Regions from separate parts of the Homo sapiens genome. Here all the other regions are linked to region 3. Evidence: fine-mapped expression QTL. A gene starts in region 3. Each other region holds a variant in brackets. All regions are shown on one strand. Distances are from middle to middle.

Region 1 (8,025 bases), 27 kb before region 3:
AATGGGATATTTATTTTATTTAACCAATGGTGTAGAGACCTATATATTCATTCTGCCCCATATCCAGAGTGCCAGTTTCCAATGCTTAATTAGCATAAGCCCCATAAGCTCCCCACTTCTAACATTTAAAAACCCCTGACTTTCCCTCCTCAGTGAAATTCTTCATGGAGTAAGTTCTCTTGCTTGGCAAGTTAATAGACTCAGCTTTGTAATTTTTTTTTTCTAGCTCTAACGGTATTTGTTTTACTCATGGACAGGTGAGAAGGACAAGGGTAGAGGAGTCTTCAAACACCCCACAGCCAGCCATCTTGGGTGAATTACTGCAGTTTTCGAAAGGTGCCAGCAGGTTTCCTCCCGCATAACATTTGCATTATGTTGTACATGCCACCGTCTTCAGATGGCTAATCCCTATGAAATTCAGTTAACATGACATTTTCTAGGAAACCTTTACATCCTTTGCTGTGTTGGGTGCAACCTTGTCTGTCATTCCGTTTTTGTACTCATCACATACTTAATGGTATCAACTGGTTCAGCAATTGGACCCCTTCCTACTGTACTGAGATTCTTGAGAGTCACTTTGATATGCACCCCAGACCCTCAGCATACTGTCTAGAGCAGTAGTTTTCAAAACCTAATGTGTATCAGAATCGTCTGGAGAAATAGTTAAAACAGAATCTCAAGCCCTACCTGCAGAGTCTCTGCTTCAGTAAGTCTGGGTGAGGCCCAAGGATATGTGCTTTTAACCAGTTCCCAAACAATGTTGATGCTATTGGTCTGGAGAACATACTTTGGGACTTCCTGGTCCATATCATACTAGTCACTCAAAAAATGTTCATTAAAAGATTTCAAGGATTATAAATTACTTTTTATTTTGATTTGAAGCCAAATTAAAGCATTTTGTAAGTTATCCAAAGTAAGGTAAATACTCCAGGTCCTTGCTACTCAAAATGGGGTCCTTGGGCTACTTGCACTGGCATTACTAGGGACTCTGTTAGGAATGGAGACTCTCTTGCCGCCTGGTGGACCTACTGACTCAGAATCTCCATTCTGAGATTCTGATCTCTCAAGATCCTCAGCCTCACATCAAAATTTGAGAAGCACTGCTCATGTGTGTGAGTGTGTGTGTGTGTGTGTGTATGTTTATGTGTGTTGTCATTATTATTGCTTTGGAGTAGTTTTAACAGCATCCATAAAACTGGTTTTCACTAATTATTCCATTCGTGGATTTTCCAAGTCCTTTGTTCCCAAATAATAGTGGGTTTACTTTTCTTCTTGGTAAGTGCACAAAGATTAAGCTTCATAAAAGCTTTAACTTTATATTTGGTATGTTGACTTAATTTTAATCATTATTTAGTGATTCTTCTGTTATGACACAAAAACACAGAAGGGTGAAAGGGTGAAATGACTACTGAAGGAGTAAATTATTTCAGCAAAAAGATAAATAGCAGAGAAACATGGGAAATGAGTTATACCTACAGAATAGAAATGCTTGAATGTGGTAACAATTCTACAGAATTTAATATCTCTGTTAAGTTACAAATTGCAATTTCTTAGTAGCACCTGTAGACTTAAAGATTAACTAGTAGTTTTAATAATATATTGACTTACAAGTTTTACTTTTAAAAGTAACAAAGAAAGCTAAAAATGTTTTAAAATAAATATATTGCAAATTGTGGTTCTATTTTCCTTCTGACTTTTTCTTGTTTGTACTCTGCCTAATTAGCAATGTTTAGTAAAATTATAATTATTTCTAATCATATGAATAATTATATATTCTTGAATTAAGAATATGTCTAATAAGTATTTGAGACTATATATGAATTTTATAGTCTCTAATGCCAGATGTTCTAAATGTGCAAGCAAATGTTATTCCTTTCTGAATTAGAGTAATTTATTTTAAATAAAGAATGTTTATAGCACATATGAAATCTAGTCATAGTTTTTAGTAGGTTAGCTTTAGGGAAATTCTGTAAGAGAAGAAATGCATACAAAACCAGAATTTATTATACTTAATTTTTTTTTTTTTTGAGACAGGGTCTCACTCTGTCACCCAGGCTGGGGTGCAGTGGCGTGATCTCTGCTCACTGCAGCCCTGACCTCCCTGGGCTCAGGTGATCCTCCCACCTCCCACCTTAGCCTCACGAGCAGCTGGAACTACAAGTGTGTGCCACCGTGTCTGGCTAATTTTTGTTGTTTTTTGTAGAGATGGGGTTTCACCATATTGCCCAGGTTGGTCTTGAACTCCTGGGTTCAAACGATCTGCCCACTTTGGCCTCCCAAAGTGCTAGGATCACAGGCGTGAGCCACCGCTCCCAGCCTATACTTCACTGTTTTAAAAAACTTTTTCAGGTTGACAGCACAGAAACAAAGCCTAAAAACAAAACAAAAGTAATTACCTCTTTCCAACAGAATCATTAATGTACATTTGGGAAGAATAAGCACGTGGAACAGAAAACGAAAGTAAAAGAATAGTCACCCCTGAAGACAACCATTCTAATGAAAAGTATACTAACAATAACCCAAACTGCAAGTGATTTTTAAGTAGGAAGCTGCAGGAACTACTCGTGTTTAGTGGAAAAGTAAACAAATTGAAAGTAAAAAAAATTAAAAGAAGAATTTATAAAGCGCTTTTACCCAAAGCTTCAGTTCCATGACATGGGAATAATTATATGAAAAAAAAATGTTCCCGAGATTTTAGAACAACTATTTATTGTGTTTAAATGGTGGGTAGTTATAGTGCAATAACCCCAGGATAGAACTGTCTTTGTTGTGGAGCAAGATTAATCAGACAGGTTTGTTCCAATGACATTAATTATTTGAGTTCTATATCTAAATTGACTTGTTTTGATTCTATGAACCTTGTATTAGTTTTTGAAGACTGCTGTAACAAATACCACAGACTGGGTGGCTTTAACAACAGAAATTTATTTTGTTACAGTTCTGGAGGCTAGAAGTTGAAGACTAAGGTGTTGGCAGGATTGGTTTCATCTCGAGGCATCTCTCCTTGGCATGCCGTCTTCTCCCTTTTACTTCACGTGGTCTTCCCTCTGTGCATGCCTGATTCCTAATCTCCTCTTCTTATGAGGACACCAGTCATACTGGATTAGGGCCCAACTGTATGACCTCACTTTACCTCTTTAAAGATCCTATCTCCAAATACATTCTGAGGTAGTGTGGGAGTTAGGATTTCAATGTATCAATTTTGAGGAAACACAGTTCAGCCCATAACAGATCCCAGTATCTTTTGAATTATAACTTCAATTCTTATAAACAGCAGATTCAAGAATAAAGTATGTTTAATCAAGGCACAAATGGTATTCTCGCCTACAGGACACTGATATTTCACACAGTAGTGCTGAGTTACTATTTTGATTTAACAGTGTATGACTGTACATTTGATCAATGTGAATCTGCCCCTGAGGGGTTTTTCTACTCTCAGGGGTCTCAACAAATCTGGATTTTGAGTCTGCAGGGTCCCGTGCCTGACTTTCTCAAAGTCATCATTTGTCTCTTGTTTCACTTCCCATTAGAAGAATCCACTACCAAAAGTACTGTACTAGTCTAGGTTCCCCAAGCCTGCCATAAACAAACAACACCAACACTCACCTGCTGCCACTCTATGGGGAGTACTATCTCTGAGAAACAGAAGTGAGGAAAAACATGGAAGTGAGGCAGTAGGAGAAGGGAACACAAACACAGGTGTTAGTGAGCTTGTCATAGCTTTGCAACAAGTGCAGTTAATTGCTCGGTCTTTGAGGATATTTTCATGAAGGTCTTATGAATTATTGCACTTTAGAACAGCCTATCTGGGGGAAAGGAAGGGAGAATTTATCTACTAGCTTCATTTTGTGCTGTACCTCCTTGATCAAAGTTCACTCCTTAAGTAGGGTTGCCAGATTTAGAAAAATTTTAAAAAGCCCATGCTTATAATAAAAAGTAATTTATTGTTTGTCTGCAATTCAAATTTAACTGAGAGTCCTGTATTTTACCTGACAATCCTCCTCTCAGGATATTAGCACCTAAGCATTTCCAGGCAGCAGCTGGGGAAGCCAGAACCTCCACAGACAGATCTGGTGCACAGGCACAAAGGTCAGTTACTCCTTGTCAGTGGCACAGTGTACAGGACTCCTCAACATATAGCAGTGTGGTGGTGGTGGTAGTGGCAGCAGCAGCAG[A/CAGA]AACTCTTTAGGACAACAGGGTAGCGCTAGGCCACTGGCCAGGAGGCAAGGCATGAGGAAGAGGCAAGAGGATGTAGGCATGGCTGCATGGATGCGGGATGATAAAAAACATAATTTTCTGTAAAAATGGGTAATTATTTATTATAATATCTCTTTAGTATCCATCATAGATCACATTATACTAGATACTGGGGATTTAGTAGTAAATAAGACAAAATTTCTGCTACGGGGAGTTTACAGAATAGCTTGAATATTGTGTGTGTTCTGATTTAAAGATGCTTAATGAATGCTAGTAAAATGAAATAATGTAATAAAATAAATGTAAATGGAGGTTTTTCTAAATGACTATTTTAGTAAAAACAAACAAAACCCCTCCATAACTATCACATGTATTGCTTTCTGGATGCTTCTGAAAAGAAATAACTCAGAAAAGTATTAGAAGGCCTCCATCAAATACTAGAATTATTATTTAATGAGAAAAAAATCCACGTGTATACAACATTTCAAAACAGAAGTTAAATCATTAAATAGTACTTTTTATTTAAATGTTTATAAGGCAGATCTATGAGAATGATAGAAAACATGGTGTGTAATTTGATAGCAATATTTTGGAGATTACAGAGTTTTAGTAATTACCAATTACACAGTTAAAAAGAAGATAATATATTCCAAGCAGATACAAAATATCTAATGAAAGATCAAGGCAGGAAAATGAGTATAACTAATTGACAATGGAAAATCAATTTTAATGTGAATTGCACATTATCCTTTAAAAGCTTTCAAAAGAAAGAATTATTGCAGTCTAGTTAATTCAGACAGTGTTAAATGGTATCAGGATAAAGAACTGAAGGGCAGAAAGAATTAATTTTCACTTCATGTAACACACCCAGATTTACAATGGCTTAAATGCAGGAAAAAGCAGTGGAAGTAGGGAAGTAGTCAAGGTCTTTCTGGTCTCTAATCTGCCTTACTCTTTGGGTGTGGCTTTGATCCTCTGGAGACAGCTGCCAGGGCTCCTGTTATATCCACAATCCCAGCAGCAAGATGAAGGGATGAAAAAGGACACATGCTGCCTTCCTTTGAGGAGACTTCATCTCACTGGCCAACACTCAGTCACATGTACACCTAACTGCAAGGACAGCTGAGGAATGTAATGGGCAGCCGCTTTTAAAGAAGTAGAGTCAATAGGAAGACAAATTCCAGTTCCAGCTCAGTCTGGGTATCTGCAAAGCTGCAAAAGATCTTTAAAGACAATTTCAAGAGAATATTTCCTTAAAGTTGGCAATTTGGAGATCATACAAAAGCATCTGCTTTTGTGATTTAATTTAGCTCATCTGGCCACTGGAAGAATCCAAACAGTCTGCCTTAATTTTGGATGAATGCATGATGGAAATTCAATAATTTAGAAAGTTAAAAAAAACTCAGTATGTTAGGCTGAACAAAACATTTTTTAGTAACATATGGAAAGAATCTCTGAAAATTAAGCACTGTATAATTTTCTCATACTAAAAAAAAAGTGAAGAACCCATTCATTCATGTAAAATTCACTGTTTAAAGGTAAAAACAGATTGAGTTTCCACTGAAATTATTACAGTTTCATTTAGGGCTAATCATTTGTCCTGAATGTACATCAGAATTTGTTTTACCCACTGATGAACAATTGAAGGTAGGGTGTCTCATTTCACAATATAAATCTTAACACTGTGAGGTGTGTTATACTATGTATGTATCTTGTTTTAAGTCATGGATTTACAAAATAATTTCAACACATTTTAGGCTGTTTACGTATTTCAAAACAGGGATTTCATAGACTGACACAGGAATAATTAGTTCAGTGTTCACAGTATTCCTAAATAAATATTTACTTATTACATTTATGATACTTTATTTAAAATACCACATTAGAAACTTTAAATATTTCATAAATAAATCTCTTTTTTGGGGGGAAACTGTACAGAATTTATTATGAAATAGCTTAATGGCAAGTGGTAATTTAGAAGAATTAAGTTATCAGATAGGAGATATATTAAAATATTTAAAAATTGGATATATTCTTGAAGCCCTTTTACACAAGTAATTTCTATAATTTGATTGTAATGAAAGTATAATATACCTTGTTACTATTATCAGATTAATTTTTGAAAGTAGAATTCCTTAATCAAGCCAAGGTTATGCTGCTTTATAAGAAATTAATCAGGTAGTTTAACACTAGAGCTCATTAGCCAACCTGTATGTAGCACAAAATAATCATCTCTGATAAATACCTATAAATATATTTTATTCATACTTTTAAATATTTTACAATTCAAATAAAAACCTTATATGTAGACAATCTGGGCTAAATTTCCATGTATGTTTTGAAAAATAATGTTAGCATGAATAGATTCATATTTAAATATGATTTTAAATACTCTTAATAGAGGAGACATAAGAAATATTTACATAAAAGCTAAGTAGCATGATACAGCTCATGGTTATTTTCCTCATAGGAAAACAATTACTTGATTTTTTTTTTTGCATAGGATTAAGACTGAGTATCTTTTCTACATTCTTTTAACTTTCTAAGGGGCACTTCTCAAAACACAGACCAGGTAGCAAATCTCCACTGCTCTAAGGTTCTCACCACCACTTTCTCACACCTAGCAATAGTAGAATTCAGTCCTACTTCTGAGGCCAGAAGAATGGTTCAGAAAAATAATGATTATAAAAAATAACAATTAAGAAAAATAATCACATAGAGGTAAAATAAAGCAACTAAACATCATAGTTTTGCATTTTTAGAAAAGCATTTAAACATTTAGAATTATAGTAAATATATTACATTTATTCTAAAACTTCAAAATTATTCTGTTTTTGTAGTACTGAAAAGAAGATAGTGCCATTTGAAACAACAGATGCATCTTTTATACATTTTCACAAGTTTGTTTTTCATATTTTTAAAGGCCCCATTTATCTGTAACAGTGGTATTTTTATTTAGAGTATCGGCTACTTAATATATACATGCAACAATATATGCTTTAATAGTCATTTAACTTTTAGGAATATTTCATCACATTAAGTGGTTAAGCATAGTGTTAAAAGAGTGGAATTTAAGGAATAAGAAAATATTGAAAATACGCTGTTATTTTCATTAGTTCACTATAATAGAATGTTTTTGCCCATAAAAGTTATCATTGCCCAACTGAATTCCTACCAAGAACTAACAAGTGATTCTCAAGTGGGGAGAAATATTATTAAAATAAAGAAAATAGAGGGCTCAGTTAGAAAGTACAAGATAATAGGCCGGGCGCGGTAGCTCACACCTGTAATCCCAGCACTTTGGAGGCCAAGGCGGGCGGATCACGAGGTCAGGAGATCGAGACCATCCTGGCTAACACGGTGAAACTCCGTCTCTACTAAAAATACAAAAAGAAATCAGCCGGGCATGGTGGCGGGCACCTGTAGTCCCAGCTACTCGGGAGGCTGAGGCAGGAGAATGGCGTGAACCCGGGAGGCAGAGCTTGCAGTGAGCCGAGATCGTGCCACTGCACTCCAGCCTGGGTGACAGAGCAAGACTCTGTCTTTAAAAAAAAAAAAAAAAAAAAAGAGGGTACAAGATAATAAAATTCACCAAGAGAACATTAGAAAATCATAAGTGAATTACCAAACTGACAAGGCAGTTGTAGAAAAAGAGTCACTGGTGGGAAAGGTAGCCTCTACTAAATAAAAGTCTTTTTATTGTTGGCAGTTGGATTCAGTAGTACCTACGTGGGTAAGTTTAGAAATGTTATAATTTCAGGAAGAGGAACGCATATAATTGTATCTTGCCTATAATTTTCTATTTTAATAAGGAAATAGCAAATTGGGGTG
Region 2 (8,025 bases), 48 kb before region 3:
TTAGAAAAGTAGAAAAAATTAACAATGTGAATAATTATGAAATATGAGGGAAAATGAAGACTGCAGCTAAAAAGGATTTATCATATTATACAATTAAACATTCAGTCACAAGTTTTCATAGACAATGAACTTTGTGCAGAGCTCTGTAGGAGCATAGATGTTGAAAGCAATTCTTATAAACTTGGCATTCTAGGATTTGCAAAGCCTTGAGATTTAAAAGTTTTACATTATATAATCGTATGTCAATATAATAATAATTTCCAATTTGTTCCTTGAAAACACCAGAGCAACCATTTATTTTCCATTGTACCTGTCTATTAAAAAGCAAGGCATGGTATAGGCATTCAATATATTATTTTGGTTATTTTATTCAGATATCAGAAAATACAAATTTAAGTGGTTACATATTAAATATTGCTAGTAAATCTAAAAGTGAGAGTTAGAACCTATCATGTATGCATAATTCTACTAAACCTTTCTATTATTTATATATTATTTGTATATTAAAATAAATAATTGCTATCTAAAAAGTTAAATTGGTAGAAAGGTTCAGAAGGTAAAATTGTCCAAAAGGTTTATTCCTCCCTACTACATTACATTTAGCAACTAAAAATGGATATTTTAATATATACCTAGATTAGCCACTATGTGGCACCAAGGAAGCACCATATACTCAGTTCCCAGAACTTGTTAGAGAACCAACAGTAGAAAGAATAAGACATGTTAATTTTACAATTCTTATCTCTAACTTACATTTTTAAAATATATATCAAATGTAATTGGTGATTTTTATTCTTCACTCAAATTTCAAAAATCAAATAAAACATGACATATATAACCTAATATATCTTTGAGACTCAAATTTTCTAAAGACAGAGAAAAAAACTAGACTGAAATTATAAGCATATCCATAAGTTCACTCAAAGATTTTCTGAAAATACTATAATTCCTTGGTTACATCTAATATTTAGCATTTACTTCAGAGTAACTAATTACAAGAAAGCATTTCAATATACTTAGAATTTAATCTCTTGTGGCTAGCAATCTCAGACCACAGCAAACTGATTACCTGAAATGCCAACTGCTGGAATCAAGTGATGAACTGAAGTTTTCTGAGTTCTGTAGCAATCTGCTACACTATAATGCATAGTATGTTTGTGATATAAGAAACATAATAAAATACTCCATGTTACTACAAAATAAAGTTAAAGAAAGATAACTTACCCACACAGTTTTATGATATCATATGCAGATTCTATAAAACGAGGCTGGTTTTTTATTTTTCCTGAACACAGATTCAGAATTTTAAATATCTGTGCTAAATCCCTTAATGGCTTTAATATTTTTAGTTAAGAAATAAAATTCAGATTAATATCTTTATTAACATATTCTTTATAGTATTTCTGTGAAGAAAGTCTATAGAATTCCAACTATTTTGCCAAATGTGGTAGATACTGTTTTAATTATTCTTATTTTGAAGTCTAAAAAAGGAAATTTAGAACCATATTTTTAAAAAAACCATTTCATTTTTGCCTCAGTAAATGCCTACTCAAAATTTTTTTCCTCTCACAACTTTAGAATTGGATTACCAACTGCTACAACACAGATTCAGTTGATCAATAACTTCCCACTGGCAATGAGTAATAGCACATTGAAAACATTAACTTACTGATTAGGCTCAATTATACCCTTCATCTTCACCCCCTACCCCTGCCCACACAAACATATGCTGTCTCAGAATAAGCAACCTAAACATTACTTTACTCCACTATTTTATTAATATTAAACTGAGATGCATTTTCCTGTGTTTAAGGCTTAAATTGGTTAGGATTTTATCTGAAACTAATATGAAAGCAAAATATGGACTTTCTAGATATTCAGATAAAAGCATCTTTTATTTTATCTATTTAAAAATCCTGCTGGCTCACGCCTGTAATCCCAGCACTTTGGGAGTCCGAGGCAGGTGGATCACGAGGTCAGGAGTTCGAGACCAGCCTGACCAACATGGTAAAACCCCGTCTCTACTAAAAATACAAAATTCGCTGGGCGTGGTGGTGCCTGTAATCCCAGCTATTCAGGAGGCTGAGGCAGGAGAATCGCTTGAAGCCGGGAGGCGGAGATTGCAGTGAGCTGAGATCATGCCATTGCACTGCAGCCTGAGTGACACAGTGAGATTCTGTCTCAAAAAAAAAAAAAAATCCTATTGGCACATAAACACATTTCATTGATTTTGTTTTACAGCTAAGAAATTATGGTAGATGTGACTTACACTTCTTGGTTGAATCTTATTACTCCTAGCCTTTTTCTAGGACCTTTTAGGAAAAGATGGGAGAGCAGGGTACACTGGAAATAGAAAGCTCTGTTAACTTCCTAGAGAAGTGACCAAGATACTTCTCTAACTTTGCTAAGTTTTACAACTTCTATAGCCAGCCTATGAGAGGGATTTAGAAATAGAGCCAATTGCCACCAACGGTTTAACATGAAGAAAAAAAAAATGGAGGTGTTGAGATGTCAGGTTAAAATAGGAAAAGAAATCCCTGCTAGTAGACATTTTCAGCTACCAGTAAATAGGGCTTGATATACACAAGCCCTAAGATGGAACAGGTCCAAATAAAACCAAGGCTAAAACATAATAAAAGATTTAGATTAAATTATAAGAAACATTTTCCTGAATGGAAGTCTTAAGAGGTTTTGAACTGGAATGAGCTAATATTAGAGCTTGATAACTTTTCTTTTTTTCTTTTTTTTAGAGACAGGATCTCACTCAGTCACCCATACCCAGGTTGGAGTACAGTGGCACAAACATAGCTCACTGCAGCCTCGAATTTCTGGGCTCAAACGACCCTTCCACCTCAGCCTCAGCCTCTGGAGAAGATAAAACTACAGGTGTGCATCGCCATACATGGCTATTTTTTTTTTTAGAGATGGGGTCTTGCTATGTTGCCCAGGCTGGTTTCAAACTCCTGGCCTCAAATGATCCTCCTGCCTCAGACTCCTAGGGTGCTGAGA[T/C]TACAGGCATGAGCCACAATGCACGGGCTTGATAACTTCTTTAGACCAAGTCAGACAACTGTTCAAGATCATTTTCAGGGTGTTCAGTCTTTTGGATTCCCTGGCCCACACTGGAAGAAGAAGAATTGTCTTGGGTCACACATAAAATACTCAAACACTAATGATAGCTGATGAACTAAAAAAAATTATCAAAAAAATCATAATGTTGTAAGGAGTTTACAAATTTGTGTTGGGCTGCATTCCAAGCCATCCTGGGCAGCATGCAGCCCACAGGTTGAGGGTTGGACAAGCTTGATTTAGATGAATACTATTCAAAGTGTGGTCTATGGACCACTGTCAGTTCTGGAAGTATATTTACTAGTCTGTGACAAAATGAATACATAAAGTGAGAGTGGACATATAAAAACTTTTATAACAATCTAATATTTGTGGGATACTTTTATTGTATTTTACAATAGCATATATATGTAAATGTTAAAAAAAAATGGCCAGCTGTGGTGGCTCACACCTGTAATCCCAGCACTTTGGGAGGCCGAGGCGAGAGGATTGTTTCAGCTGAGGAATTTGAGACCAACCTGGACAACATAATGAGACTCCACAAAAAAATAAAGAATTAACTGGGTGTGGTGGGTGCATTCCTGTAGTCCCAGCTACTTGGGAGGCTGAGGTGAGAGGATCGCTTAAGCCCAGGAGTTTGAAGTTGCAGTGAGCTATGACTGCCCCGCTATACTCCAGTCTGGGCAACTAAGGCTGGATGGAGACTCTGTGTCAAAAACAAACAAACAAACAAACAAACAAACACCCCAAAACAAAACAAAACAAACTGGTTCTTATCCAAAGGTAGTGTTTGTTTGTTTGTTTTTGAGACAGGGTCTCACTCAGTTGTTCACACTGGAGTATAGTGTCAAAATCTTTGATCACTGTAACCTTGAATTCCTGGGTTTCAGCAATCCTCCTGTCTTAGCCTTCCCAGTAGCTAGGAATATGGGCACACACCACCACACCTGGCTATTTGTTTTTTTGTAGAGGCAGGGTCTTGGTATGTTGACCAGTCTGGTCTTGAACTCCTAGCCTCAAGCAATCCTCCTGTCTTGGCCTCCCAAAGTGCTGGGATTATAGGTGTAAGCCATCACACCTGGCTTTTACGTACAGATAGTTTTAAGACACACTGGTTTTCATGTATTCTGGTCAGGGTCGTATATTTAGTAGGGATAATATATTTATATAATATTTTGCAGATTATCAAGCACTTGGATGTACATGATCTCATCTAATCTTGCTAACAACCTCATGAGCTTCTATTACTTTACAAGGGTGGAGAGCTTATCAAAGGTACAACTGCCCATGTAAATTAATAGAAATAATGACTTTGACTTGGCCCTCTAACTACATCCATTGTCTTTCTGAATCGACAAAAACTGACATTATCCACAGTTACTTGTGTTATATTGTTTCTTCAATTTTATTTACATTATCTGATAGAAAATACAGTCTTATAAAGAACATAAAATGTTAGATATTTTCTGTGGTAGACAGAATAATGGCCTCTCCAGTATTTCTGTGGTAGACAGATTAATGGCCTTCCCCAAGATATCTATGTCCTAATTCCTGGAACCTGTAACTATGTTACATAGCAAAGGGACTTTTCACATATGATTAGGAATTTTGAGATGAGAAAATTATACTAGATTATCCAGGTGGGCCCACCGTAATCACAGGGATCCTTATAAAGGAAAGAGGGAGGAAGGGAGGGTCAGACAGAGAAGATGATGTGACGACAGCAGCAGAGGTGAGAGTGATGCCAGTGGGGGGAAGAGGGCATGAGGCAAGGAATGTAGGAAGCCTCCAGAAGCTGGGGAAGGCAAGGAAATGATTCCTTTCTAGAGTCTTCAGGAGAAACCAGCCCTGTCAACATCTTGACTTTAGTCCACTGAGGCTGATTTTGGACTTCTAACCTCCAAAACTGTATGATAATAACTTTATGTTGTTTTAAGCCATCAAATTTATGGTAATTTGTTACAACAGCAATGGAAAACTAACACATTTTCTAAAAGAAATTCTCATTTCAGAATAAATGAAATGAACATACATATATATGTAAAGGATACAAGTCCATTCTGATAACACTGTACCAGTTTCTTGACAAATTTAAGTTGTTTTTCTTCCAAGCCATCCTAAAACAGATCACCTATTTTAGTTCTTTTGTGCTTTTAAATCTGTTGAGATTTTAAAAAATTCTTCAACATAAAAGTAGACACTTTAAAATTATCAAGTAATTCTTAAATTACTATATTATAATGTAAACGTTATAAAATGTTTTCTGAAACAGTGAAGGTAAAAATAAACTATCAGAACGACTGTATGATCTAGCAATCTCACTACTGGGTATTTATCCAAAGGAAAGGAAATCAGTGTATCAATGAGATACCTACAGTTCCATGTTTATTGCAGCACTACTCACAATAGCAAAGATACAGAATCAACTTAAGTGTCCATCAATGGATGAATGGATAAAGAAAATATGGTCTATATATACAATGGAATCCTATTAAGCCATAAAAAAGAATGAAATTCTGTCATTTGTAGCAGCATGGATGGAACTAGAAGATATTAAGTGAAATAAGCCATGTTTAGAAAGACAAATATCACACATTTTCACTCATGTGTGGAAGCTAAAAAAGTTGTTCTCATGGAGATATAGACTAGAATGATAATTACAAAAGATAGGAAGACTGTGTTAGTGAATATTTGTTAGCAAAGTAGGGTGACTAAAGTCAACAACAATGTATTGTATATTTCAAACTAGCTAGAAGAGGGGATTTGAAATGCTCCCAACACATAGAAATGATAAATGCTAGAGGTGGTAGATAGCCTAAATACTCTGACTTGATCATTACACATTTTATGCATGTAACAAAATATCACAAGTACCCCATAAACATTTACAGACATTATGTATCAAAAATAAACTATTATTTAAATTTGATTAGGAAATTGGGAATCAAAACCAGGTTAATATAAAAGCAGTAATTGTTTCCAGAAATAATATTAACAACAGCTAAAGTACATTGAATATTTTTTCTACGTCATGTACCACATGGGTACCATATATACATATCACTTCATTAATTTCCAAAATGACCCTATTAGGAAGATACTACTATGATCTCTGTTTTCCAGAATAGGAAACACAAGCTGAAACATTTTAAAGTAACGTGTCCAAAATACACAGCTAAAAAGTGGTGGTGTTAGAAGACAAATTTGGAAAGCTGACTGTAGAGATTGTATTTTTAACTTCTAAAATATGCTCAGTGTTCTGTGCAAGCCAAACATCTTAAGTCAATTAAAAATGAAAATAAGCAAGTAAAACTTCTACACAGTGATGTGTTTCCATGACTGAATTCTGTCTGTCCTTTTAATCTTAAATGTTCCTGAAAAGCTGTGATATTGTCTATACTTTTTCTCTGTAGCCTTATTAAACAGCTAATAGGCACTCTATGCAGTTGTGGTTTTTTAAGGAAATGTAGATATAGTCACAATAAAAAATAACTTTTCACAACAATGATAGCCAGAAAAAGATAAATTATTCCAATAGTCACTTTTTCTCCTTTATATGTAAAAAAGCAGAGAATAAAAAATGTTAAAACAGTGACCAAATTTTTGTGCCTCCTATTCATAGGACATTGTTTTCTTTTGATAGGCTATACTATGGTCAACCCACTTACTTAAAAATTTTTTTTTTTTTTTTATACTTTAAGTTCTGGGATACACATGCAGAATGTGAAGGTTTGTTACATAGGTATACACGTGCCATGTGGTTTGCTGCACCCATCAACCCATCATCTACATTAGGTATTTCTCCTAATGCTATCCTTCCCATAGTCCCCCATCCCCTGACAGGCCCTGGTATGTGACGTTCCCCTCCCTGTGTCCATGTGTTCTCATTGTTCACCTCCCACTTATCAGTGAGAACATGCAGTGTTTGGATTTCTGTTCCTGTGTTAGTTTGCTGAGAATTATGGTTTCCAGCTTCATCCATGTCCCTGGAAAGGACAGGAACTCATCCTTTTTTATGGCTGCATAGTATTCCATGGTGTATATGTCCACGTTTTCTTTATCCAGTCTATCATTGATGGGCATTTGTGGTCAACTCATTTTCTACTTACTAACAATACGTATTCCTTTTTGGAAATCACCACATAAGTTCCTAGCGTGTGCTGGCTTTTAGGCATTCAGTCGATTCTTGATAACATCAGGTGGTATATGAGCATGTGTGCATATACATTTGTTGTCTTTTCTCTCAATGCCTGCTTTCCCAATTTTGAGTCTTGTGTCTAAAATAACTTAATTTCCATTACATCTTATATATGATTGTTCTCAAAATAAATTATCTATGTGTACATGTTTGTGTGTATCTATCCTGATTTCATAATTAGTACACCACGGTACCCTGTTTTCTACCATTTCTGTCCTCCAATCCTACTAGGTAACAAGCACTTAACAGAGGCTAGATGATCCTTTCTGTACTCTTAGGATTCCTTCTGTTACAGCCACCATGGGTTTGTCTATCTCATAAAAGCAAATCTATTCTCTTCCTCCAGTCTCCCCACTTCATTAAATATATTCATACTAAATTTAAATAGTCCTTGAATATAAGATATGTACTATTTAAAATGTTTTCAACAAAACGAGATAAATGAGACTTACATTTGAAGGAATATATGTTACCTTTCAGGGAAATAGTTTGTAAGTAATGCAGCGGAGTAATTTTCTCTCAAAGCTTACTCACTTTATCAGTCTCTTCGAGGAGTTTGATGACACGATTAAGGTCCATAGGCTTGAAAACATCCTAAAAAACATACAACTCTTACTATTCTAGATCATCTTCTATATCAATAAGTCATATCTAACACACTAATTTATATGATACTTTCCCTTGGTAACTTAAAAAATGTTTTATGACACTACGATAGTAAGGGGAGAATGAACAGTAGATGAAAACTCACAGGAATAAAT
Region 3 (8,025 bases):
TGAGAATGTATTATTTTGATAGGGAATTCAGTTACATTCAGCTGGACAGCCTCTTAAGGTTTTCAGTTTAGAAGGATTTCCTGAACATTCCTGAAGCTGAATGGCACCTGTTGTGCTATGTTACTTTTGAAAAATAGAACCTAATTTGTTTCACACATAAATAGGGCATTTATTATTGGATGACAGCAACTCTGAAAGGGCTGTCCACAGAGGTTTTGATGACATTTCACAACCTGCAGATTTGGAGAGGCTATCAAGAAAACATAATTCTCCAGGGCCATGAGGTGGGGTGGTGTAATCTTCACTTTGTAAGCCCACATCTGAACATCTCTTCTTCATTGTCTCTCCTGCAAACACCCAGCTCCTTTGAAGCTCATGGTACTTCACCATACCCTCTCCCTGTCCTTACTGCTGTCCTCACTGCTGTCCTCTACTGACTTCTAGTTTATTCCTTATGACTGCAGACTCTGGCTCCCAGTATATACATGGTCATCCTCTCTACCCTAATAGCTATCATGTTTTTCCTGGACTTTATCATTCAAGTGGATGAACCATTCAACTTCAGGGGCTCTTATTTCCTTGACTTACTCATTGGAGACAATGAATTTTTGCCTCTACCCCACCTCAGTCACTCACTGCCTGAAATCTCCAAGCACTGTCTCCAGGACTTCCAATAATCTTAGTTTAAATATTCACACTGATAATTCTAAACAGCAAAAGAAATCTGATCCGTTGACCTCTACCTCTCTAATTGCTTAATATCCTGCACTCTCCTTCAGCCTGCTCTGGTTTCTCTTTAAACCGAGGCTAGATTTGTAGTCACTCCCTTAAAAAGATCCTCAGCTCTCTTACTCTCCATCATATCTGCTTGGCAAAACTCTAGTCCTGGACCCAGCTATCCATTTTCTCTGTATCTGTATCCACGTTGGTGAAGGTTGCTGGAGAAAAACCAGAAAACTGAGCTCATTAGTTTCACCTTAAATTAACAATCACCAATTTTACCTATCAAAGACCAGTCTATCCACTTATGTCCTGGAGAGCCTCCCTTTTTGCTTCCCAAGGGGATATGGTTATGACCTCTTTCTGTGACATCTCAAACTTCACAGGTTCAAACCTGAACTTTTTCCACCCAGAGCTGGTCCCATTCGCCTGGAAATGTGTAAATGCCACCATTATCCACCAGTTGCTCCAATCAGAAAATTGGGAGTCATTCTTAAGTCCTTGCTGACCCTCACTTTTGACATAAAATCCTGCACCAATTCCTGTTCTCCAACATATTTCATAAATCCCTCTCCACCAATACCAGGCTAGTCCAGGTGTCTATCATCTCACCTGAACTCTGCAAACATTTCCTAATGGGTCAGCCTACTTTCTCTTTTGACCCTTTCCAAACATCTCCACAGCAGCTAAAATCATCTTAAAATGTAAATCGTCATAAAATGTCTCTCCTTAAAATCGGTGCTCCTTGTACTTAGAACTACAGCCATCTTCCTGACTATCACGTAAAAGGTCCTGAATGAGTTAGTCCCCGCTTCCCCTCTCTAACCTTATCTGTATATTGTCCACCCACAGCATTCTCTTCTAGAAAGAGAAAACAACAACCACTTTATGTACCTTGGGAGCTTTCCATATACTGTTCCATCTCTATAGCAGAATAATTCACTCAGCCCTTGTTAAATTTATTTTGTAATATTTTATATAATTGTTTCTTTACTGTTTACTATTTCCCCCATTGGACAATAAACTGCACGAGGGAAGAACCATGTTTGTCTTGTCCGTGATCACTGCCTCCACATTGGCTGGCAGTGTAACTAAGGATGCAATAAAAATTCTTTGTTATGGAATACATCAAAAAAATTCAGGACAAAAAGACATGTAATAATTCTCTAGATCAGATTTCTCTTTTTGCTGAAAACACATGTGGGCCCTTAAGGGGTAGGTGATTTATCAATGTTATTGTTATGTTAATGTCTCAGTTACCTCAATGTCCTGGTTTCTGGCCCAGCAGGGATAAATACATCTCCTGATGTCCTATGTCCTTTATCACGCCTGCAGTCTTACTCTTTCACATTTTTGGTGTATCTTCTTTCTCACTTTTCTAACTCATTTACAATCCTTTCTTTAAAAATTTGTCTTCACCTGTCCTGTTTTTTCAGTACTAAAATACAACTATGTTCATTCACCACATTTTCCATAGCACCAGTACAATAAAAAGTGACTTGGATAAAGCTTTTCATTTCCTTACTGCACAATTTGCTCAAGTTGTCATTCTCAATATTGTCTCATTTCCCCATACCCTGACAGAGTGACTAGCTAAGAGGCAGAGAGTGCAGCCATCCCAATGGCAGCACACATAGTTACTCTTTATGTTTCTAAACATCCTGCAAATTATTTAGGACGGGTGTTTTGTTTTGTTTTGTTTTGCTTTTCCATTAAATAGCCTCTAAGCTTTGAAGCAACCAAGAGAGAATCGGAGTAAAAAAATTATAGGGTTAAAGAAAGAAAAAATAAACAGATCAATAAAATGAAGAAATAATAAAGTGGAGAAAAGGAAGGATGGGGAGGTGGTTTAGAAAACAAAAAGGGTTCCAAGCAGCGGGGCTGTTAAAAGGACCAGAATCTAAGTCAGGAGGTTGGGGGTGGGGGTGGGGGTGGGGCAGGAGTCTGAATTCTTTTTCTCCTATACTGATGAGCGATAATTAACTATGGCCTGGACTGTCTTTCCATCTAAAAAACTAACTGCCCGAGGAGTAAAAACTGACACCAATCCTTCTCCACGGGGTGGGAGAGATAATAAATGGAAATCTTCCAACAAAAATGCTCTTTATCTCTCTGCTCTATTTTAAGAGCAAGATTTTTAGGGCATAATTTTCAACAAGTTTTGGCTGAGGCTGAACACAGGGTTCAAAGATAATTTAGGACAGTCAAAGAAGAGGCCAATTACTTTCTAACAGAAATGGCCTAAACACCACGATTACATTACTGGGAAATAAACCAAATGACTGCTAGAAATACCTGTTCGCAAAGCAGCACTGCATGATCTTCCATGAAATGCCCTGCATCAACCCAAAGTAGCAGGGAGACTATCAAGGGGGCGAAAGTAACCTGCCTGTCCTTTCCTGCTGGGACACATCCTACCTGGGACAATGTCTCCTTGCCTTCTTTCTCCTGGGCCCAACCTCAGGACTTGCCCTTAGCTCTAGGAACCAAGAGGAGGAGGAGGGGGAATCAGTGGAACAGACACCCTTCTCCACCCTTCTCACTTTCCACCTTAAGGTGCCAGGAGATGAGGGACCCCGCAGCTCAGGGCGGACGCCCGGTGAGGGCGCAGAATCGGGGAGGATGGATGCAGCGCGTGGCGCAGACTGCATCTTGACCCTCAACTCCGCCGCCGCTACCTTCTTTCGCGCTCCTCCCCGACCCGCTCACCTCCGCGCCCCCCGCGCCCTCCACGCCGGGCAGGGGCGAGCCTTGCAGCTCCCCGGGAGCGGCGCCGACTCCCCAAGGGCCCACCCGGGGGCCAGGGCCTACGGACTGCACCTCCGACTGGCGGTTGCAGGGTGGCTGCCGCGGCGGTCGCACTCCAGCTGCTTCCCCGCCTACCCAAGCTGGATCGCGAACAGCCAGGGGAGAAGGAAGGAGGGAGGCGCGCGGAGGCCGGCTTGGCAGCGACGCGCCGCTAGGGGCTGCGTGCCCGGACAGCTCGTGGCGCCGAGGGCCCGAGGAACGCTGACTGGAGTCGGGAAGAGCCGTGGAGCGCGGGGAGGAGTCGGGGAGCTCGGAGGGGGCGGGGGTGTGTGAAGGGAGCCGGGCTGTGTGGAGGGAGCTGGGAAGGGCCCAGAGCACCGAGGGGGAGCCAGCAGTGAGTGCACTGGGGAGCTCCACACACGCGGCTCCGCAGCTTTGCGCGCCCTTCTACCGCGAGCGGCTGAGTATCCGCCTGGCTCCCCTGCGGGGTTCCTCCGTGGTCTTCCGGAGATTCTTTCTGAAGCAGCTTTAGAATAGTCAAGCCTATTTTTCTACTCCATTTCTTTTTGTAATGTGGGGTCACCTTTCCGCTCTAGAAATTGCTTTTCTTACGCGATTCCCACCCCAACTCTCGCCAAGGGCCCTGGTTCTCATCTCCCCAGTCTTAGCTTCTGACAAGCCTCCAAGAAACTGCGCTTTTTTCTTTTGTAAGTGTTCTTTTGCCTCATGTTTACCCTATCCCAAACGTCTTTTGACTAGACTGTGTCCTTGGAATAAAATGTTCGGAAATGCCCTTTCATGAAAACTCCCTCGGATAGGAGGACCCTCACAGACCCTGGACTGCAGAGATTATTCTGTTGACTTTGACCTTCACTCTAGCTGGTGCCGCGCGAGCTTTGGTGTGGGGGAAAGGAAGGTTAGGCCGTGAGTCAGGAGACCTGTGTTCCTGCGAAAGCCATTTACCTTCTGGGGCCGCAATGGCTTTGAATGTTTCAGGGGATCCCCTGAGAGCACCTTTGGCTCTGGGTTTCTGTAAATTTTCTCCCTGCGGATTACCAAGTAAAAGTACCTTTTATCTTTTGTGTAGAAGGTGTCAGTAGAAGAAGCAAGAGATCTTTATTCCCAAATATAAAATCAACTTACCAAAAATTCTCAAATTTGGGGAAATTTTTTTCATACATTAGTAAAGTACCATTTCAACAAATTAAGTTTAAAAATTATCCCTCTAGGTGGTTTATTAACCAGACCAAAAAAACCCAACAACAACAACAACGAGAGGGGGGTCTTAGATCGATCACTGGGGCACTGCACTTTCCCCTTTGTAGTCCATACACAGATTAACCTTTGTAAATGCTGCTTTGGAAATACATCCTTTGTTTGACTTGAAATGTAACCCCTCCCCTACCGCCAAATATTATTAAGGTTTAAAGTTTAGGCAGAAGCTAAGGTTTTAACGATGTGTCAGGGTGTGGAACCATCGACAGCTGGTAGAATACTTTCCATTTTGGTTACTGGAAACAAGTCATTAAATCTAATATCAATTTTAATAATTTCACTTCAACAAAACTGTCAAATAATGAGATTCGTGGAGTTTTTTCTAGTAGTTCCTCTGGAGAACTTGTGGAGAAAATTCATGAATCTTAGCAGTTAACGGAAAGTATATTGCTTTTCCATATATTTTAAAAAACTATAGAATTATATAACTTCCCCACGGGGATATTAAAAGAAATTGCACTTTCTAACTTCTATAACCATAAATTATCATGTAAAACATGTAGGTAAGCCATATATTTTAAATATGTTTAAAAGCTCTCTTAACATGGGCTTTGACTATTGAGAAAATAGATAAAGTAATGTGAAATCCCTTTTCCTAAATGAGAATCAGTGAGTCAACAATTTGCAGCTTCCAAAAGGGATATCTCTTTTTCATGCTTGAACTATTAAAATAAACAAATATCTTTGATGGGAAATCTAATGTTACCAAATGTGTTCCAGAAGACTGTTGGTGTTAATGCAAAGCATGATTCCTTTAACTTCCATGGTAACTAATTTTATCATTGTTTTTCAGCTGGAGATGCAGAGTATGAAAATGATTTTGCAAGACTTTTCCAGGTCATGAGGTGCTCTCTGAGAAATCTCTTCTGTTCCCTAAAGTAGTAAGTGACTCAACTGAAGCGAAGCAATAATTATTAAATGGATCTCTAGTGGCCTAGGGGCATTAACACATTTTTTTCCTTTGAAGTTATTATACAATTAAATAACTTTAGAGTGGTAGTTCCCAAAATGTGTGACTTTAGGCACTAGTTTGCCTAAATGCTGCTCTAGCAAGTCATTCACTTCAAAAATATTGAGCCACTTCTATATGCCCTGGCTGGCACTCTAGGAACAGTGGTGAAGAAGACAGATATATTTACCTGTCCTGATAGAAGTTACAGTTTGGTGAAAACGATAAATTAGTAACAAGTGCAAATAAGATTTATGCAGATTTATTTACACAAAATAAATGTAAGTCGTGATGTAAATAGTAGATTTTGAGATAAACAATAAGAGAAATCTCTTCATTTTAGAGATCCACAATGTATGTTAATAAATTAAAGGCTCTGAAAATTCCTATGGTAAAAACATTTTACCTAACCTATTCCCCAAACCCCCAAATTTGTTTTGAACAAATTTGTTTGTAAGCAGTGCTTATAATAAAATAGAATAATTTTTGTGAAATGCTGCTTTGTTTTAAAACCAAAGAATTCAATAAACATGAAATTCTGTTAACATCACCTTACATTTATTTGTCAATGTACATTAATATACATCAATAGATTTATACATGTAAATATAATCTGAAGTAGACTGTGTTTGCACATGTTTATACCAGCGCAATTCACAATTGCAAAAAATATGGAACCAGCCTAAATGTCCATCAACCAACGAGTGGATAAAGAAAATATAGTATATATATACCACAGAATACTACTCAGCCATAAAAAGGAACAAAATAATGGCATTCTCAGCAACCTGGATGGAATTAGAGATGATTATTCTAAGTGAAATAACTCAGAGTGGAAAACCAAACATATGTTCTCATTCATAAGCTGGAGCTAAGCTATGAGGACACAAAGGCATCAGAATGATATAGTGGAGTCTGGGGGCTCCAGGGGGAAGTGGGGTGAGGGGTAAAATACTACGTATTGAGTACAGTGTACACTGCTCTGGTGATGGGTACACCAAAATCTCAGAAATTACTGCAAAAGAATTTGTTCATGTCACAAAAAGCCACCTGTTCCTCAGAAACTATTGAAATAAAAAATAAATTGTTTAAGTATGATTAAAAAAAGAAATACGCTGTGTTTGAACACAAAATGATACACAAGGATTTATAAATCTATTAAAATGCTTGAATGTACATCTGTACAAAACACATATTTATAATTAACATTATTTCATAAACATATTTCCAGAGATCAACATGTTCTAAAGTCTTATAATTCTTAATGGCTATATAGTTTATATATTGGTATAGACTAGTTTTTCCTTCCTTCCTTCCTTCCTTCCTTCCTTCCTTCCTTCCTTCCTTCCTTCCTTCCTTCCTTCCTTCCCTCCCTCCCTCCCTCCCTCCCTCCCTCCCTCCCTCCCTTCCTTCCTTCCTTCCTTCCTTCCTTTCTCTTTTTTTTCAGGGTCTGAATCTGTAATCCAGGCTAGAGTGCAGTGGCATGGTCAAGGCTCACTGCAGCCTCAACCTCCTGAGCTCAAGTGAGTCTCCTGCCTCAGCCTCCCAGAAGCTGGACTACAGGCAGGCACACGCCACCACACCCAGCTAATTATTTATTACTTGTAGAGAGGGGATCTCCCTAGGTTGCCCAGGCTGGTCTTAAATGCCTAGGCTCAAGTGATCTTCCCACATCACCCATCCCTCTCACAGTGTGCTGGGATTACATGTGTGAGCCACTGTGTTTGGCCTAGAATAGTTTTCTTAACCCTAAATTTTAGGAAAGTACATTTTCTGATTCTTTAACTATTATAAGTAACACTGCTTTAACCTCCTTGAACAAATTACTCTTTGGAGTAATAAGTGATGGGAATATTTTCTTGGGATATATTTTTTAATGTGGGTTTTTTAATTAAAAGAAATTTTATTTTTTCTGTTTACATAGTCTCATATTTCTTTCCATAACAATTGAAAAATCATTATAAAAATATGGATGTACTTTTATCTTTTAGATTCAGTATCTCATTGACACTGAATTTTATTATTTGTATTTGTTTAAGTTGATTAAGGAAGCTTTAAAATGTGTGTAATTTCAGTATACCCATAGGAAATAGCAAAAATACCTGGAGGAATTTGACTGGATAGCTTTGGTCATAAATCCATAAAGGGCCTCAAAGCTATTTCCCTCCCAATGTACCTCTCTGCGAATTCTTCTAAACTAATTTTGTGGTAATTTTAAAAAATTATCTGAAATTAAAAGAATTCTCAGAAAAGTTCTATAAGCATTGGCTCTAGATCTGCAGTTGGTATAGACCAGCAAAATTGACTGACGACCAATGTTAGAAAGAGGAACC
Region 4 (8,025 bases), 76 kb after region 3:
TTATTTTTAAAGGACATTTACATCCAGCCATTTTATGAGTGCAGTCAAGGCAATTTCATGTTATTTTCCAAGACTTTTACACACTTGGAGAGCCTGGCAAAATGCATTCGAGATGTTTGAGCAAGAGGTCCCATCAGTTATTCACCTGCATGTTTTAAATTGGGTGCCTGCCCTGACCGGCTGAACACTCCATTCATCGAATTGCCTGGAACAGCTCCATGGCCTTCAGGAGCCTCATGCACATCTCACACTGTTGCAAAATTGCCTTCAGACAGGATTCTGATTTCCGTCAGAGAATTTTAAATTCCAGCTAATGGAATGCTTTGAAGGCATGTGCCACAGACTTCTGCCCAGTGCAAGTCCTGTGTGTGAGCAAATCTAGCAGGGACTCCAGAGCCTGGACAGCAGAAAGCTGCACTTCCTCAAGAGGACGCAGGATCCTCTCACTTTCCCAGTTATCCTACAGCTGACTAGTCAGCTGAGGGATTCACCTGGTGTCTGTATCTCCCCACTAGCTTCTTACTGTGGGAAGAGAAAGAATAGGATCCTGCTGGGAGCCAGGAGTCCCTGGGTTTAATTAATGGCCTTTTGGCTTTCTTCCCTTCCCCTCTCCACCGTGTGCACTGGTGGACACTGGTCCCCATCCCTGAGGTTCAGTCCTGCCCTGGATTCCAGGTCTACGCCAAGCCGAGAAGGTTTTGGATGAGAAGAGCTGAGTAATTTGCTTCGTCAACAATTTTTGAAACAATGCTTGAGATAACCTTTGGAATCTGGGTTCTTCAACTACATGGTTTCTGTCTTACTTTTCTCTTGCAGGAGGGTCAGTGCTTTCATTCCCAGCCAGCTATTCCTTGTTCTTCATGTCCTCTACCACCTAGTCCCAAATATACAATGAGAACTCCTGGATCTCTTAGTTTCTAGGTGTCCAGTTCTACTTGCCCTTAAATTAATGACTTCCATCCAGGGCACAGTGGTTTTGTTTGATTGTATCAATGGATTAGACAGGCCCAAATCTAATTAAAAGCTTTGCCCCTGTCTAGTTGGAGGGCCTTAAGAAAGGCACTTGACATCTCTGAGACCCAATTTTCTCATCTGCAGAACAGTTTTACTAAGATGTCCTAAAGATTAAATTATATAATATATAAAGAGTCTAGCAAAGAGTAAGCCTGTAAATGATGGCTATTATTATTATTTTTACTAGTATTTGACTATCCATTAGTCCATGGATAAATGAGTCTATCTTTGGCTCAACTCTCACATTCAGATATATTCTATGCTTTCACCTGAAGTTGGGGATCCTCCATGGATTACTGGTCCTACCTCAATTATTTTTCCTGCTTGTTCTCTGCCTTATTTGTCCTTCTGCTTCCTGAGCCCCTAATTTATTCATGTGAAAAAGCAAAATTGCACAATGTAAATTCTATGAGAACAGCTTCACTCTAAGGTAAATTATAATGTCTTGTCTTATTCATGAAATGACTGAATGTTGATGGTCATGTATATCATCTACTAAAATGATAGAATGAATCCTTTAGACACTCTAGAAATAGTTTGTTCTATTTTTCTCTACTTGACTGATGATCTGTTGGGATCAGAACAGATATTCACAATATTAAAACTATAGTAAATGGTTTTGTGGTTGTAACCAATGACAAATAATTTTTTCTCTCTGAATCTGACATCCTCCACATCTACTCTCTGGGATGGAAATGTCTTTAGTGATACTGCCAAAAGAAGCATCAGAGAGAGATTAGATAGATATGACCTTTCCATGAATTTTAAGAGGAAGACTCTGATATGGTTTGACTTTGTGTCCCCACTGAAATCTCATCTTGCATTGTAATCCTCAGGTGCCAAGGGAAGAACCTGGTGGGAGGTGATTGGATCTTGGGGGTGGTTCCCCCATGCTATTCTCATGATAGTTGTCACAAGAGCTGATGGTTTTAAAGTGTGGTACTTCCTGATGCTCGCTCTCGCTCTCTTGCTTTCTGTCTCTCTCTCTCTCTCTCTCTTGCAGTCTCTCTCTCTCTCTCTGTTGCCTGCCGCATGTAAGATGTGCCTTGCTTCCCCTTCACCTTCTACCATGATTGTAAGTTTCCTGAGGCCTCCCCAGCCATGCAGAACTATGAGTCAATTAAACCTCCTTTCTTTATAAATACTCAGTCTCTGGTGGTATTCTTCATAGCAGTGTGAAAACGGACTAATACAGAGAATTGGTACCAAGGTAGTGTGGTACTGCTATAAAGATAACTTGAGAATGTGGAAGCAACTTTGGAACTGGATAACAGGCAGAGGTTGGAACAGTTTGGAAGGCTCAGATGAAGACAAGAGGATAAATGAAAGTTTGGAACTTCCTAGAGACTTGTTGAATTGTTTTGACCAAAATGCTAATAGTGATATAGACAATGAAGTCCAGGCTGAGATGGTCTCAGATGTAAATGAGGAACCTATTGGGAGCTGGAGTAAAGGTCACTCTTACTATGCTTTAGCAAAGAGACTGGCAGCATTTTTCACCTGCTCCGGAGATCTGTGGAACTTTGAACTTAAGAGAGATGATTTAGGGTATCTGGCAGAAGAAATTTCTAAGCAGCAAAGCATTCAAGAGGTAATCTGGTTGATTCTGAAAGCGTTCAGTTACATGCGCTCACAAAGAGATGGTTTGAAATTGGAACTTATATTTAAAAGGGAAGCAGAGCATAAAGATTTGGAAAATGTACAGCCTGACTATGTGGTAGAAATTTTTCTGGGAAGAAATTCAAGCCAGCTGCAGAAATTTGCATAAGTAACAAGGAGCCAAATGTTAATCACCAAGACAATGGGGGAAATGTCTCCAGGGCCTTTCAGAGATCTTCAAAGTAGCCCCTCCCATCACAGGCCCAAAGGCCTAAGAGGGAAAATGTCCTCAGGGCCCTGGGCCCTGCTGCTCTGTGCAGCCTTGGGACATGGTGTCCTGCATCCCAGCCACTCCAGCTCCAGCTGTGGCTAAGAGGGGCCAAGGTACAGCTCAGACCATTGCTTCAGAGAATGCAAGCCCCAAAACCTTGGCAGCTTCCACATGATGTTTGGCCTGTGAGTATTCAGAATACAAGAGTTGAGCTTTCAGAACCTCCATCTGGATTTCAGAGAATGTGTGGAAAAGCCTGGATGTCCAGGCAGAAGTCTGCAAGAGGGGTGGAGCCCTTATTGAGAACCTCTGTTAGGCAGTGCAGAAGGGAAATGTGGGGTTGGAGTGCCCATACAGAGTCTCCACTGAGGTACTGCCTTGTGGAGCTGTGAGAAAAGGGCTACCATCCTCCAGACCCCAGAAAGGTAGATCCACCAACAGCTTGCACCTTGCACCTGAAAAAGCCACAGACATTCATTGCCATCCCATGAAAGCAGCTGGAGGGGCTGTACCCTGCTAAGCCACAGGGGTGGAGCTGCCCAAGGCCATGGGAACCCACGCCTTGCATCAGCATGCCCTGGGTGTGAGACATGGAGTCAAAGGAGATCATTTTGGAGCTTTAAGATTTAATGACTGCCCGGCTGGGTTTTAGATTTTCATGTGGCCTGTGGGCCCTTTGTTTTGGCCAATTTCTCCTATTTGGATGGGAATACTTACCCAATGCCTGTATTGCTACTGTATCTTTTTTTTTTCTTTTGGAGATGGAGTCTCCCTCTGTCACCCAGGCTGGAGTGCACTGGTGCGATCTCGGTTCACTGCAACCTCTAACTCCCACATTCAAGCAGTTCTCCTGCCTCAGCCTCCTAAGTAGCTGGGACTATAAGCGCCAGCCACCACACCCAGCTAATTTTTGTATCTTTAGTAGAGATGGGGTTTCACCATGTTGGGTAGGCTAGTCTTGAACTCCTGACCTCAGGTGATCCACCTGCCTTAGCCTCCCAAAGTGCTGGGATTACAGGTGTGAGCCACTGCACCTGGCCCCCTATTGTATCTTGGAAGTAACTAACTTGCTTTTTATTTTACAGACTCATAGGTAGAAGGAACTTGCCTTGTCTTAGATGAGACTCTGGACTTGGACTTTCAGGTTGATACTGGAATGAGTTAAGACTTTAAGACTGTTGGGAAGGAATGGTTGGTTTTGAAACTTGAAAGGGACATGAAATTTTGGAGGGGCCAGGGGTGAAATAATATGGTTTGTCTCTGTGTCCCCACCAAAATCTCATTTCAAATTGTAATCCTCAGGTGTCAAGGGAGGAACCTGGTGGGAAGTGATTGGATCATGGAGGTGGTTTCCCCCATGCTGTTCTCACGATAGTGAGTGAGTTCTCATGAGAGCTGATGGTTTTAAAGTGTGGCACTTCCTGGTTTGTTCTCTCTCTCTCTCTCTCTCTCT[CTG/G]TCTCACCTGCTGCTATGTAAGATGTGCCTTGTCTTCCACCATAATTGTGAATTTCCTGAGGCCCCCCCCAGCCATGCAGAACTGTGAGTCAATTAAACCTCCTTTCTTTATAAATTACCCAGTCTCTGGTGGTATTCTTTATATCAGTGTGAAAACAGACTAATACAGACTCCTTCCCTGGACACTAGAACCATGATGGCATTAGGGATGGAGTTATTAATGCATAATAGCAGAAAGCTCTTTACCTCAACATTATAAAGATAATAAAGGTATAGTTAACAATGATTGTACACACATTGTAGATTCCATTACAGTATTAAATTGAGCAATAGTGTTTGCAGCAAACTATGGGCATTTTTCTTTAATTTCCCCTCCCATTAAATTATTCTTTAATTTCTCCTCCCATTAAAGGAGAGGGTGGTCTCTTTTCAGGTAAGGATTGCTCATCTCTTTCTTCTTCATGCCTCATGCCGTGCATGCCCCATGCAGGTGTAAGCTAGATGGCATTCTGTATGTCAGGACCATTTTTCATTACTGCAAAATACTCTAAGTTTTAAAGAAAAGAATTTCTATCCTATGCATTGCTATAAGGCTTTTTATTCCAACATATGGTATTAAATAGGAGTTATGTGCTCAATTGTGAATTTATATGAAAAGGAGGTTAGGATACAACAGGCATAGAGGAAACATCATGTGAAGACACAGGGAGAAAACGCTTATCTGCAAATCAAGAGGAAAGATCCCAGAAGAAACTAACCCTGCTGATAGATACCTTGATCTCCGACACCTGTCTGTGGTACTTGGTGATGGCGCCCTAGCAAACTAATATAATTGTGATGAAACACAGAGGCCCAAGAGTGGCCTTTGTGTTTCATTTCAGTGCTCTATGTTCTGGCCAATTGTCTGTCACCTTCCTTTGTGCGTGAATGAGTCCCCTGTGGGCAAAAGCAGAGGCCACCCGTGGGGGCATACCTAGATGGGCGGCAGGCAGACAACCACTATCTGTCATCTACCCAACCACCACTTATGTCCTTTTCCCTCCATATCCCTCCTCTTTCACCATCCCTCCCCTCCTACTCACCTTCTTCAGGTAGCAGGAGTGGGAGGTAGGAAAAAGCAACAGACTTATTAATGTTAAAGATCCAAGCTGCAAACCTTTGCCTCTGCTTAGCTTTTTGGTTTCAGACTCTTTCTCTAGGCAAAATTTTCTCAAAATTGTCTGCTACAGGAATTCAGAGAAACATTTAAAACTCTAAAAGTAGACCGATACCACCACCTTCCCCATCCTCCACCCAACCAGGCTGTGACAGTAGGTAAAATCTGTATACCGACACCAATTCCCTTGATGGCATTTGGATCCATTTCCAATTGAGAAGCAGTCATCTATCCTTTTTCATTAGCTTCGCCTTCACTGGTGAGAAGTTAGTGGGAAGTAAAGACTCTGGAGGCCTGGAGTTGTTGGGTTTTAAAATTTTATGCCTGGAGGGTAAGTCCACTCTAGTAAATGCGAAGTTATTTTTAAACTTAAAGCCATGGAATACAACTACATTATAGTAACCAGCTATTTTGCAGTATAACCTACATTCATTCGTGTATTGTTTGTATGAATGCTCTGTTTCCAGCATAATGGCTTTTAAAAATTAAAAATATAAATTAGCTATTATTAGAGAAACAGCACAATAGTAAAACTCCCATAAATTGGCATTAGAAAATATTAATAATAGACTCTAGAGGGGACAGACAGTCTCTAAAGAATAAACAAATCATTGAGTAGAGAACACAAATCCCATCCAACAAGTTAGTGCTCTATGCTGATCTTCAAACAATGGGTTCCTGGGTCTTAGCAAAAGCAACAAAAACAACTCACCACTAACCGAGTGCTTACTGAATCTCATATGCTTTATATGTATTACTTTATTTTTTTCTTCCAAATGTCACTTTTGAAGAAGATACCTTTAATATTTCCACTTTACAGATGATGAAATTTTAAAATGTTATATAAATTGCCCAGCTAGTAAATGGTAGAGCAGAGATTCAAACCCAGCCTTAATATATATACTATTATTTTGATCCCCAGAGCACTCAATATAGTGTTGGGTACTTTTAAAAGAATTAAGAAAATGTTGAGCCATATGGGGGATGATTCAGCCATATTGTAGGGACAGAAAACAGTAAAAGTGACCCAAATACCCTATCTTTAAAATTTTTCTATGTTTTAACCATTTATTTTCCACATTATTCTTTTGTGCAATGTTTGCTGAGCATCTACTATCTTCCAGGTACTGTGTCGGGTGGAAAACAGGAATAAATAATATACAAACCTTTTTATTAAGTAATTCAGAGTTCAATGAAAGACTTCAAAGGAAAACAGATCATTTTTAAGTGATCGAACTATGTGACAGGTGGAGTGGCATTAGCAGATCACAGAGGGGATGGTCAGGACTGGCTGCTGGCAGGAGGGGACTTCTGAGCAGGTGAGAGGCAGGGGTGTGCGAGGAAGACAGGTAAGACCTTAACAGGCAAGGGTACAGTGTGAGCACTGGCAGGAAAAAGAGTTGCTGGAAATTTCCAGCAGTTCATTGTTGCTGAAGCAGAACGTGTGATGCCGGGTGGGTCCCTGATCGTGGAGTGGAGGAGGGATGCAAAGCATGGAGACCCTTTTAAGGCACCAGACGAGGGAGAGAGATTGAACAAATAGGAGAGGTGGGTGGGTGAGGGAGAGAAGAGCCACTGAGATAATCACAACTCAAACAAAACTAAAACAAATGTAGTGCATGTCCTTGAGTTCTCTTGCTTTCTCCCATTTTCCATGAAAACGTGCAAACTAGCACCTTAACACTTTTTGTAATTTCATGACAAATGCTATCATATTTCATAGTCAGCACATGGCACTAAGTATACATAAAATGAACATTTTGCACACTGTCACTTTTTTTTTTTTCTCTTGAGACAGTCTTACTCTGTTGCCCACGCTGCAGTGCAGTGGCGCCATCGTGTCTCTCTGCATCCTGGGCTCCAGCGATCCTTCTGCCTCAGCTTCCCGAGTAGCTGGGACCACAGGCGCCTACCTCCTACTTATTTTAAAAGAGTTCAGTCCAGGTTCTACTGTTCCCAAGGGACTTTTCTCCATACTAGGAACTCTAAAATCTGACAATGGTCTGGATCCGTGAGATAGGAAAGGCATCTTATAGGTACCGGGTCCTGTCTTCTGCCAGGGTCTACTGTGCTATAGTCTCAGAGGGATTTCATTAGGGGATCCCAGTAAGGTTGTAAAATGAATAAGGTCTTGGTGGCACCATCTCTGTGTAGTGAGGAAAACTTATGTAAAACTGGAATGGGTGAAGGGGTGAAACTAGGAAGGTGTCATAGCTGTTAGAGGAGGGGGAGCAGGATTGGGTGGGTAAAGCCTTCAGCCCGTTGACATCTATGAAAGAGGAAGAAAGCAGGAGAGCCTTCAGTTGCAAAGGACGGCTGACCAGGGCTTGGCTTGCTCAGTGAGCAGCTTCAGAGCAAAGATTGCCTGATGAAGCAGTTCAGCATTGGGCCAAAACAGCCAGGCCCTACAGTACCCTTCTCATCTGGTTTGGCTCTGTCCCCACCCAAAATCTCATCTTGAATTGTAATCCCCATAATCCCCACATGTCAAGGGAGAGACCAGGTGGATGTAATTGAATCATGGGGGTGT

Which allele goes with the higher level. Alleles are on the strand shown, and positions count from the first base shown. SD is a standard deviation of normalised expression in the study named. Not every link is listed here.
With allele CTG in place of G in region 4, the expression in skin of the gene that starts at base 3,735 in region 3 is higher (moderate effect, 0.73 SD a copy in TwinsUK).

Evidence for each region.
Region 1: its variant is fine-mapped to the expression of STEAP2 in tibial nerve (GTEx, PIP 0.98).
Region 2: its variant is fine-mapped to the expression of STEAP2 in skeletal muscle (GTEx, PIP 0.98).
Region 4: its variant is fine-mapped to the expression of STEAP2 in skin (TwinsUK, PIP 0.95).

Annotation. Positions count from the first base shown.
Region 1 is chr7:90,234,283-90,242,307 of GRCh38, reverse strand. STEAP2 (STEAP2 metalloreductase) reads right to left here. Exons shown (of 6, transcript NM_001244944.2): 6 at 4,625-8,025. LOC107986819 (a long non-coding RNA gene) reads left to right here. Exons shown (of 2, transcript XR_007060423.1): 2 at 1-4,721. Among named protein-coding and RNA genes, the nearest start is that of CFAP69, 6.9 kb to the left of the region's middle. RefSeq lists a silencer at 7,543-7,748. The variant A/CAGA (reference allele first, on the strand shown) is at 4,176.
Region 2 is chr7:90,255,256-90,263,280 of GRCh38, reverse strand. It overlaps CFAP69 (cilia and flagella associated protein 69), which reads right to left. Exons shown (of 23, transcript NM_001039706.3): 2 at 7,799-7,858; 3 at 5,118-5,183; 4 at 1,225-1,334. Among named protein-coding and RNA genes, the nearest start is that of CFAP69, 14 kb to the right of the region's middle. The variant T/C (reference allele first, on the strand shown) is at 3,010.
Region 3 is chr7:90,207,450-90,215,474 of GRCh38, reverse strand. It overlaps STEAP2 (STEAP2 metalloreductase), which reads right to left and starts at 3,735. Exons shown (of 6, transcript NM_001244944.2): 1 at 3,430-3,735. STEAP2-AS1 (STEAP2 antisense RNA 1) reads left to right here and starts at 3,840. Exons shown (of 3, transcript NR_110029.2): 1 at 3,840-4,175; 2 at 5,537-5,624. RefSeq lists a silencer at 3,573-3,632.
Region 4 is chr7:90,131,231-90,139,255 of GRCh38, reverse strand. The region is part of intron 2 of STEAP2-AS1 (STEAP2 antisense RNA 1); the gene reads left to right. Among named protein-coding and RNA genes, the nearest start is that of STEAP1, 19 kb to the left of the region's middle. The variant CTG/G (reference allele first, on the strand shown) is at 4,338.